Regions from separate parts of the Homo sapiens genome. Here regions 1, 2 and 3 are each linked to region 4. Evidence: fine-mapped expression QTL. A gene starts in region 4. Each other region holds a variant in brackets. All regions are shown on one strand. Distances are between the middles of the regions.

Evidence for each region. PIP is the estimated chance that this variant, and not a neighbour inherited with it, causes the effect. A credible set is the group of variants that fine-mapping cannot tell apart.
Region 1: its variant is the best candidate, but not a certain one, in a credible set for the expression of SCUBE2 in gastroesophageal junction (GTEx, PIP 0.89).
Region 2: its variant is the best candidate, but not a certain one, in a credible set for the expression of SCUBE2 in blood mononuclear cells (TOPMed, PIP 0.73).
Region 3: its variant is the best candidate, but not a certain one, in a credible set for the expression of SCUBE2 in coronary artery (GTEx, PIP 0.80).

Annotation. Positions count from the first base shown.
Region 1 is chr11:9,050,101-9,052,783 of GRCh38, forward strand. It overlaps SCUBE2 (signal peptide, CUB domain and EGF like domain containing 2), which reads right to left. Exons shown (of 23, transcript NM_001367977.2): 13 at 2,646-2,683; 14 at 506-610. All of the region lies in intron 1 of NRIP3-DT (NRIP3 divergent transcript), which reads left to right. Among named protein-coding and RNA genes, the nearest start is that of MIR5691, 39 kb to the right of the region's middle. The variant C/T (reference allele first, on the strand shown) is at 1,297.
Region 2 is chr11:9,037,357-9,040,039 of GRCh38, forward strand. All of the region lies in intron 16 of SCUBE2 (signal peptide, CUB domain and EGF like domain containing 2), which reads right to left. The region is part of intron 1 of NRIP3-DT (NRIP3 divergent transcript); the gene reads left to right. Among named protein-coding and RNA genes, the nearest start is that of NRIP3-DT, 35 kb to the left of the region's middle. RefSeq lists a silencer at 1,890-1,939. The variant G/A (reference allele first, on the strand shown) is at 1,571.
Region 3 is chr11:9,054,474-9,057,156 of GRCh38, forward strand. SCUBE2 (signal peptide, CUB domain and EGF like domain containing 2) reads right to left here. Exons shown (of 23, transcript NM_001367977.2): 10 at 1,320-1,436. The region is part of intron 1 of NRIP3-DT (NRIP3 divergent transcript); the gene reads left to right. Among named protein-coding and RNA genes, the nearest start is that of MIR5691, 35 kb to the right of the region's middle. The variant A/G (reference allele first, on the strand shown) is at 1,632.
Region 4 is chr11:9,090,476-9,093,158 of GRCh38, forward strand. It overlaps SCUBE2 (signal peptide, CUB domain and EGF like domain containing 2), which reads right to left and starts at 1,124. Exons shown (of 23, transcript NM_001367977.2): 1 at 921-1,124. The coding sequence starts at 1,053.

The DNA.
Region 1 (2,683 bases), 40 kb before region 4:
AAGGCCAGTTCTACTTGGATGGTATTTGCTTTGCTGAAGCCAATGGGGTCACCGCTTCCAAAAACTAGACCCAGCAGGAAGGCTGGATATTAGATCTTTGTTCATCAAAGTTATCCTTTCTGAGCCAAACCTTTTTTCATTTCTTTGGCTTATATTTCAAGCAAAATCTGAGATCTAGAAAATTTAACCCAATATGATCACAAATTGCTAATTCATCTGAAGCCCTTATTGACTTCTGTGAACTCGTGGGTTTCCCCAGAGCCTCACCAACTATACCATGCAAAGGAAGCCCCGAAGTGTGACCCCAGAACTATACAAGCATGCTAGGTTATGCTCTTCTTCCTCTTGGGATGAGTCCCTGGAAGTTGGGGATGGTTCAGTTCCATCTGCAGTGTGCTTGGATCGGCTGGACAGCCCCTGGCCCCCATGGACCTCCAGCTCGGCTGGCTGCAGGCCCCTTCCCACATGCAGGCAAGCTCCCTACACCAACCACCTGATTCCATACCTGGTAGTGCTGGTCGCAGACCCTCGGGAAACAGCTCAGCATTTTTCAAACTACACTTGCCTTCATTTAGCTTAAAGGTTACACTTGTCCTGATGGTGGTGACATCTTCAGAAAGAAACAAGTGAGAGATGTTACCTTCAGAGGCAAAGGAATGGAGACACCAGATGGGAAGCAGCAAGCTGTCCATTGGTGGCTTCCACCACACACAGCACACCCTGAGACCCTCTCCTACCCTGAGGCTAAGAGTGGCTTGGATCATGGAGTGCCCATTGCCCTGGACTGGGGCCACCAGGAGCCTCCTAAAATTGCAGTTACCCCCTCATGTGAGAGGCAAATCCAGTGTTCAAATAAAACAGAGGCCAGCCTGGCGAACATGGTGAAACCCCATCTCTACTAAAAATACAAAAATTAGCCGGGCATGGTGGCACATGCCTGTAATCCCAGCTACTCGGGAGGCTGAGGCAGGAGAATTGCTTGAACCCAGGAGGCAGAGGTTGCAGTGAGCTGAGATTGCACCACTGCACTCTAGCCTAGGCAACAGAGTGAATGAGACTCCATTTCAAAAAAAACAAAAAATTATCTATCTATCTATCTATCTATCTATCTATCTATCTATCTATCTACCTACCTACCTATCTATCTATCTATCTATCTACCTATCTATCTATCTAAAACTGAGGGTCAAAAATAGCCTCCACGGTGAAATAGAACATGAAGTCATTTTTGTGCCTTCCTGAGAAAAAAAGGCCAGAATCCCCCAGTTCAAATCTGGATAAGCCCGTTTGGCGAAA[C/T]GGTGAAGGGCAGATTCTCCTAAACAAGCCCGTCGTGGGAGGACAGGGCTGAGGGAGCTGTTGTTCCAGACACAGATGGCACTCACTAAACATGGCTAGGCTCTGAGGTCTGAGAGGGAGTGAGGGTCCCACTGTGAGAGCCTGATGTGCAAAATTCTGTTCTCCTCCCAGGGTCAGTCAGTCTTAACCATCCGGTAGGATCTGGAGTCAATGCCCTACAGCTCTTTTAAGTTGTGGTGAGAACTTGAGCAAGTTACTTAATCTCCCTAAGCTTCAGTGTCCTCATCTGTAAAACAGGCATAATTATAGTACCTATATTACCAGGCTGTTGTAAGGATAAAATGAGATAATGCATTTAAAAAAAGGAAAATGTTTAGCTCCTTGCCTGGTACGTAGTAATAACTGCATAGCCATTAGCTATTTGCTTGCCCCACCTTGGGGTGGCCCAAATCACCAAGGAACTGTCACTGAGGGATTTGGCGAAACAGACCATGATGTATGCCCTGGCTGAGTCCAAACGTGCATTGAAAGGGGCAGTGAAGGATAGTGCTTGAGACTCTGGACCCAGACTGCCTGGGTTCAAATCCCAGCTCCCCTATTTCTTATCTAAACCACTTTGAGTAAGTTATTTCACCTCTCTGAGCCTCAGTTTCTTCATCTGGTTAATGAGAATAATAGTAAAATTTCCTCAGAGGGTTGTAGTATGGCTTAAGTCAGTTAATTCGTGTACTATGGTAGCTGGCATATTTGAATTGCTCAGTCAACACATACAAGCTGTACTGTCTTGCTTTGAGTCTCTAGCTTTGCTCATATATGTAATATGAACATCAGGATGTAATATGAACCTCATTCAGGTGTTCCAATGACATAATGACAAAGGCGTCTATATCCGGGAGGACACAGCCTCCTAAAAACCTTGGATTTCATTCTTCATCTTTTGACAAACAGGAAAGGGTTTGGGCCCCTTTCTCGGCACAGAATCCCTGCTGCCCCTGCTTTGCCTATTTCTATCCACACCATGTGCTCCAGGCACATTCCCTGGGCCTTTGAGGTGCTCTGGAGTACAGCCTGCTGGTCCTGGGGTTCTGTGGGCCTCTGCCCAGGGTGATGACCCACCAGGGCTGACCACAGCCTCCTGACACACAGTGGCCACACAGTAAGTATCTGTTACATGGGAGAGTCACATTCCGGGCACCAGGACTGCAGGCAACAACACCCTGGAACATGCTCACAGCATCAAGGAAATTAACAGAAAAAAAACAAAGCCAATGTCCAAGAACAGCACCCCGTGAATGAAGCCCCTTGAACACAGTGAGCCCCCAGAGAGAACACGCAGATTTGGTAATTACCCCCAAAAGCAGAGTCATTTGATTTTTGTTGTTTGTTC
Region 2 (2,683 bases), 53 kb before region 4:
AAGCTTTTCTGATGCAAAAGGGACAGACCAGCAGGATGAGGATTAATGGCGACAAAGAAGCTTGAAGCCTCCGCCTCTTTTCAGCACTGTGGCCTTTGAGTATTTCAGGCTATAGACAAACACTATGGTCTCTCTGTGGCTAAGATGATGAACCTAATAAAAGGGGTCACCCTCTAGTATTTGACTGCTTTCTTAAGAATCACGCCTTGACTTCTGAAGAAGAGCCATAAGCAGCCCACGTGGATTCCCAGGGTGCCCCAGGGCTGCTGCTTTGTCCCAGTCCAGAGGTGCTGATGCCCCAGGCAGAGTTGGCCTCAGGATCCTGGTTTGAGCTCTCTTTAAATGACTGCCCCCATGATAACAGGGGACAGTCCTTCTTGGGCTGAGAGATTGATTTTTCATTGTCCAGGTTTTTGACCTGTGCTCAGGTTTGCTCTTTAAAAACATTCCTGTAGTTGAGGCAGAGAAATGAGCCCAGCTTGATGCCTTCTTCCTTATTGGGTTCCCAAATGCACACTATGTTCTTTTCATGCCTAGTTAACTGGAGCTGAAATTTCACTTCCTTTAGAGTGCCTTTTTTGCCCTCAATTTAAATATTTCTCCAAAGATTTGCCCTTTGCCCTCTTTTCTCTTAATGTTATCTACTATCCTTGGGATTTCATCTGTTGTCCCTGTGAAGATTCATTTACTCATTCATTCAATAAGTACTTATTGAGCACTCATTATGTGCTGAGTACCGTTCTAGGAGCTGGAGACACAGCAGAGAAGAGACATGACCCTGTTCTAATGGGGTTCTCAGGGCAGTAAATAAATGAGCAATAAATCTCAATGAGCAAGCAAATAAGTATGTAATAGAATGCAAGTAGTAGTATGATGAAGAAAAGGAAAACAGGGGAAGATTACAAAGAGGGGGTAGGGATGGAGTTTGTATATATGCTATTTTAGAACTGTGGCCAAGAAAGGCCTTTCTGAACAGAGACCAGAATAAAATGTGGGAAACAGGCTGGGTGCTGTGGCTCACACCTGTAATCCCAGCACACTGGGAGGCTGAGGCAGGAGGACTGCTTGAGCCCAGAGTTCAAGACCAGCTTGGGAAATATAGTGAGACCTCGTCTTTCCAAAATCACCTTAAAAAGTTAGCTGAGCGTGGTAGTGCATGCCAGTGGGAGAATAGCTTGAGCCCAGGAGGCGGAGGTTGCAATGAGCCAAAATCACACCACTACACTCCAGCCTGGGTGACAGAGCAAGACCCTGTCTAAAAAACAAACAAACAAACAAACACAAAACAACAACAAAAAAAAACAGGAAATAGCCTTGCAATGAGATTGCCTAATAGCAAGAAAGGCAGTGTAGTAGGAACACAGCATAAGGGGGTAGGGCAATAAGAGAGGAACTTTAAAAAGCAAGCAAGGGCCAGATCACATGGGTGCTTGAAGGCCATGGTAAGGAAATTAGACCTTACCCAAAGTATGTTGGAGGTTTGAAATGGGGCAGTGACACAATCTGATTTATGTTTTTCTTTTCTTTTCTTTTCTTTTCTTTTCTTTTTTCGTTTAGGAGACAGGGTTGC[G/A]CTCTGTTACCCAGGCTGGAGTGATCATGGCTCACTGCAGACTCAACCTCCTGGGCTCAAGTGATCCTCCCACCTTAGACTCCTGAGTAGCTGGAACTACAGGCTTGCACCACCATGCCCAGCTAATGTTTTAACTTTTTGTAGAAATAGGGTCTCCTGGGCTCAAGTGGTCCTCTGTCTCGGCATCCGAAAGTGAGCCACTGTACCCAGCCTGATTTATGTTTTTAAGAGATGTCCTGGCTGCTGTGTGGAGAACAGATGGAGGCCAGGCAAGGCTGAGGAGAACAATTCAGAGCCTGGTACAACAGACTGAGCTAGAGATGACGGTGGCTTGAAACAGAGCAGTAATAATAACGGAGGAGGAGAAAACTGGTCAGATAAAGGAAATTACCTGAAGGCAGAGCTGACAGGATTTGCACACGGACTGGATGAGGAACGCAACAGAAAGGGAGAGGTCAAGATGACTCAGGCTTTCCACTTGAGCAACTGGGTGAGGCGAGGTGCCCCTTACTGAGATGCTGGTTTGATTTGATTTGAAGCTTGAGAGGATAAGAAGCTTTGTTTGGAAACACTGAGTTTGAGATGCCAGTTGGCCATCCAAGTGCGGACACTAGGAAGGCACGGGTTCTACTGTTGGTCTCTGAGGCGGAATACTACACCTCGGGGGTTGACAAGATGATCCACCGGGTGGGAGCACGTTTCTACACCCATGCCTACGAATTTTCACCTAAAATAAGAAACAAACGAAGCTCCTCTGGTTTAGAATATGGTGTAAGAGCAGCCTCCCAGCCAGTCTCCATCTCTGTGAGGCACAAGACACATGTGAGGAGCCAGGGTCGCCAAGAAAAGAGAAGCACTGGCACCCACAACTCGGGCGCAGGGCACTGACTGACTCTCGCCTCTCAATACATAGAGAATAGTTACAGCTTAGCTATGCCTGGGTAATGAGATGTCCTGACCTATATGATCGTGTTTTTAACTAAACTAACCATCACAAAATAGAAAGCAGCTTTGATGGATTCCCGGAAAGAACACCCGACTGAAGGGCGTAAACGTGACGCGAGCCCATGCGCACCACAGGAGTGTCCGTGGGCGCATCTTCTGCTCCTAGCA
Region 3 (2,683 bases), 36 kb before region 4:
TACACAGTTGAGGCACAGAGAAAGGGAAGTGACTACACTAATTCCCATCAACCTGAGACTGAGTCCAGATCAAAAGGTAGCTCCACCTAAACCCAGACATACATCCATACTCAGGGTACATTTCCTCGAGGTTTCCTGATGGACTGGGAAGAGTAGTATGTCTTTGGCCATGCCAAGGATGTGTTGAAAGGGAGAAGGGAGATAACTGTCAGTAGCAAAGCACTAGTGTATATATATATATATATATATATATTTTTTTTTTTTTTTTTTTTTTTTTTTCAGGTGGAGTTTCGCTCTTATTGCCCAGGCTGGAGTGCAATGGCACAACCTCGGCTCACTGCAACCTCCACCTCCCGGGTTCAAGCAATTTTCCTGCCTCAGCTCCCAAGTAGCTGGGATTACAGGCATGCGCCACCACGCCCGGCTAATCTTGTATTTTTAGTAGAGACAGGGTTTCTCCATGTTGGTTAGGCTGGTCTCGAACTCCCGACCTCAGGTGATCCGCCCGCCTTGGCCTCCCAAAGTTCTGGGATTAGAGCCGTAAGCCACCACGCCCAGCATATCCAATCTTCTAAAGCACAAGACTCAGGACTGGTCAGGAAGTATTTAAGCCAGTGGTTCCCAAATCCTATAGATCCTCAGGAAGATGACCTTGGAAGTCCTAGACATTCTGAATTGGAATCTGAACCTGTATTCTCAAAGATTGCTGGGTGAATCTGATGGCTGGGGGAGTGGAGTGGGAGTTAGTTGGTAACAAATCCAGTTTATGGCATAGCCTGCTTGACCATGAGGTTATGAGACATGAGAACATTTTGCAAAATGGGCACAGAGTGGAGAGAGAAACTTCATAGTTCTGCTTCCAGCTCAAAGACCTAGTTGTGGGACTCAAACCAAGGCTTTGCAGCCAGTTCCTATGCATAGCAGGGCTGTGGAATTGGTGGGTGCCCCCCAAGCCTCTCTGAGGACTGTGACTTTACTATCTGCTGAGATGTTCCAATAGATAGGTTATCAGCTCCTGAGATACCCTTCCACTCTCTGAATACAGCCGCAAGTCAATCAAGTCGATAGAGAATTCACAGCTGGAAGAGCTCAGTTCTTCTCTCTGCTCCATTTCACACTCGGTGTGTTAAAGGGATACATGTGGGGAGATTTCCTTTAGCAGATCCTGCTCTCAAGTTGATGGACTCACCGCTATTGCTCAGGGACTGCAATGTACCTTTCATACCCCAATGTAGGAAAGCAAACCTCAGGGGTAGGCCCTGCTCCCCTCCAGGCCCAGCCTCATTCCCCTCCCAACTTGACAGGGGCAGTCTGCTCACCTCCACAGTGGGTGAAGCCATACAGGGTGTACCCTCGGTTGCAAGCACAAGCAAATGTGCCAGGGTGGTTGATGCAGCTGTGGTCACAGGTCCTATCCAAAGAGCACTCATCCACATCTGTAATGGTCAAAGGGAGAGGGGAGCTGAAACCCACTCTGAGGGATGAGTGAAGAATAGGTTTATGATAAATACCAGTTGCTGACCAACACCAAAAACAATACACACAGAGTAAAAAACATTATCTATCCATTTTCCTCACTCACTTGTGTTAAAGAAAGTGTGGAGCAGCCCACAAGAAGTATACTGACTGCC[A/G]CGGCCCTCATTTCCACATTCTGTTGCAAACTGCACTTCCCTCAAAACTCAGTTGGTCTCTTTCACCCATGCGTACTTGCAGGGCTAATTTAAAATGTTTAAATGAAGCCAAATGAGATAACATACCTAAAAAGGGTTTTGTAAGCTACAGGTGCTAGCTATGCATTTTTATTGTCATATAACTATTAGTAAAACAGCAATATTAATTTATTAACTACGGCAAATTGAAAGGAGAAAACACTTGGTTTGGAGGTAAATCTAGTTCCCATCCCTTTCTTATTTTCTCAGAATTAGTCTTCTGGCCCCAAGAGGCCAGTTAATCCTAGGTTTTAATGCCCTCTGCACTGAAAGAATGCATCAATACTAATATCCTCACTAATTTTCTCTTTGCAGGCCCTGAAATGTGGTAGTTCAGCTCCACATTGGATGCTTTTGGCCGATGCCTTGGTTTTGCTCCTCCCCTATGTGCCAGTCCTATGAGTCTGCTAGCCTCCTGGTTCAGTGTGGAAGCCTCCTTGGCTGCAGCGGGGGTCATGCACAGCAGCCTCAGGAGGCTGCATTTGTCCATCTCAGCATCTCTTTCCCTGGGTCTGGCCCTCAACCTCTTTCTTGTAGGCTGGAATTTGAGTGCTTCACTCCCTGAACTCTGGAGGATTTTAACATAGTTACGACTTGTGTCTCCAAATGGATAAACCAGGACCAGTGCCGCACTCAGTCGAAGCCAACTAGACCACTGCTAGACCACTTTTTTCAACACCGAGTGTGCCATGAGAAACTATGTTAATAAAAGGCAAAAATGTGGAAGGAACAGGAAGAATGAAAAAGCAAAATAAAAAAGGGCAAATTCTTGCAAAACCTCTTCATCCCTAGCTTTTCCCAGAAATCCTGGCATTTCTTCAGTAAATTTGTTCTGTGCAAGTATTTGTTCTACCAAGACCGATCAGTGAAAAATGAGAAAAACCTAGTTTCTTCCCTAGGAATTGATGCCATTTTATGAAATCTGTTATTAATATCAGCCAGTTGTCGAGAAAGTGCACTTGTTCAGTAGCTGA
Region 4 (2,683 bases):
TATTTATTTATTTATTTTTTTTTTTTGCTCATCAGCTGTCGTTTGTGTTGGTATATTTTATGTGTGGCCCAATTCTTCTTCTTCCACTGTGGCCCAGGTAAGCCAAAAGATTGCACCCCGCTGGTTTAGAGTATTTATGGGAAGTCTGCCCCGGGATCGGAGCAGATGTCATCCAGGGCTCTCAGATGCTGCGAAGCGGGGATGGTGTCCCCATGGCCGGCCCCCTGCACTCCCACCCCTGCCCATCCTCTCAACCTGGAAACCCGCCTTGGCAGAAGTATTTCCTGGGTTGACACTACTCCAGGATATTAATTAAAAACAAAAGCATTTTGAAAGTATTGCAAGTCCAGTAAGCACAGCACGTCCAGAGTCCTCTCTGGAAACCAAAGTTCTCTGCTGAAAACCTAGGCTTGTTGCTGCTTCAGGGTAATTCCCAGATCGGAACAGGCGCTGTTCCGCTGACAGAAAAGTCTCTGGAGCCCACCCCGAAGCCATCAGCAGAACTTGCCGGCCCCCAAAGAAAGAAACGGCAAAGCTGCCACCGCCTCGCGGATGTGCCCGGCCCGGCCCTCAGTTTCCCCGCCTACGCTGAGGCGCGGGACCCCAAGGCCAGGGTCCGCACCCTCCTGCCTGCTCGCCGGCGACGGTCTGACTAGCAGGCGCTCTGGAGGCATCCGGACCGGGGCGGGAACCGTCAGCAGCTCCGGGTCCGAGGCCGGGCCGAAGGACTCAGGGCCCCAGCGGTCGTGGCGCCTTGGCCCGGCCGGCGGGTGAGGTCCCGGGGGGAGCAGAGGCCCCCGCGGAGCTGCAGCCGCCAGCCCCGAGCCCCGCGCGCCCGGCTCTGGACTCCGCCGGGGACCTAAACACTCTTCCTGGCCCTGCCTGCTGTGCCAGGTGCGCCCCCGCGGCCGGACACTCACCCTCCTGCGGCCCCGCGGCACGGCCCCGACCCGGCGGGACGGCCCCCGCCAGCAGCAGCAGTGGCGGCAGCAGCAGCAGCAGCAGCAGCACCGCCCAGGCCGCCCCGGGACGGTTGCGGCCCGCGACCCCCATGGATGGCTCAGCGGTTGCGGGCAGAGGCGGCGGAGTGCGGGCGGTGGCGGCGGCGGCGCGGGGAGGTGTGCGCGGACGCCCTGCCCGCTGCCGCTGCCACCCCCGGCCCGGCCCCGCCCGCCCCCCGAGCCCCGGCCTCATTTTCACACGGTCCCTCCCGGGCCGGGGCGGGAAGCGCAGGCGGGAGCAGTGCCGCCCCGCCCGGCCTCCTCCCGTCCCCTCCCCGGCCTCGGGTGGAGGGGGCGCGGCCGCGGTGGCCCGAGCGCGGCTGTCAGCCTGGCGGGGCGGCAGCACCGTGCCTCGCGCCCCGCGCAGCCCTGGCACCCAGCCCGCTGCCCCCCGCATCCCCGCTCCGCTCCAACGCTCGGAGCCCTCGGTGCCGCGCCTGTTCCAGTGTGTTACAACTCGACCCAGGCCCTCATGTGAGGACAAACAGCCCTTCTAGATTGAAATATTCGGGGTCAGGGCGCCCAGAAAGTGTTCCGTATAGTCCCCAAACCCCAAAGCCATCTTGGGGCTTTCCACGTGGGAGGTGGGAGGTGGGAGTGGAAGGAATTGGGGGTGACTTCCAATTCGGGAAAACAGCTGTTTGAATGGAGAAGGTGACCCTGGCTTCTCTGCCCACCCCAGCACACCCTCTGCACCCTTCTCCACACTGCCCACCCCAGGCCCTCTGGGATCCTCCATCCCACAGCCCTGAGGGCACTGGTCCACTTGTCCCACTGTGGGGCACACTGGGCCTAGAATCCCTGCAAGCTACTTATGTATATCTCAGGGCAGCCTAAGGGGAAGGGGGCTAGAGGTCAAAGGTGAGCCACCAGAGACAACAGACAGCAGCCCCGACTTTGCCGGAGTACAGGTGGCATTTACGATCACCTGAACTCATAAACATCAGGTCTGGCTAGCTTCAAACACAGGCAGGGCCTAGCACCTAGCCTTCCATGAAAGACAGTCCTTGCAAGGGAACAGGTACACAGGGTCTTCCCATATCACACTTGACACGGATGGCTGGAGCCCAATACACCCACCATCACTCCAGGAACAAATATAGTAACAATTTCCGGACGCAACCAAACATCACACTTAGGGATAGTAATGTTCTTCACTGAGCTTCTCCGTATTTATTCAATTTTCTCCTGCGATTATATACATACACATATGTATATATGCAGGCACACGCACGCGCGCACACACACACACACCATTCCTTTGGAGATCAGAAAAAAAATAGATGTCACCAAAAAATCCCCACCTAGCTCATGCACAAAAACTCTTATGTCTTCTTGGGGCCTATCCACAGCCCAGAGCTCCCAGCCTCTGCACCCTCAGTACCCACTGTCTGCCACCCCAGCCCCCGAACATGCCCACGGGGGCCTGCCTCTTTGGGCTGTGGCTAGTGCAGCTGCTTGATGGAGCTATCTGAGAAAATAACTTTTCTGTAGTTGTTTTTCTTTTGACCCTTTCAGTGAAGGCAGGCAGGTTGCGTCCCTCTTTCTGTCTGCGCCTCCCTCCCACTCCCTTTTGTTTGGTGCTGAGAGAGACACTCAGCTATTTCTGGTCATAAGGGTGGTTTTTACACATTTGTAAATCTTCAGTTAGTGAAACGTTCTCTCCACCTTTGTCTTTGTGT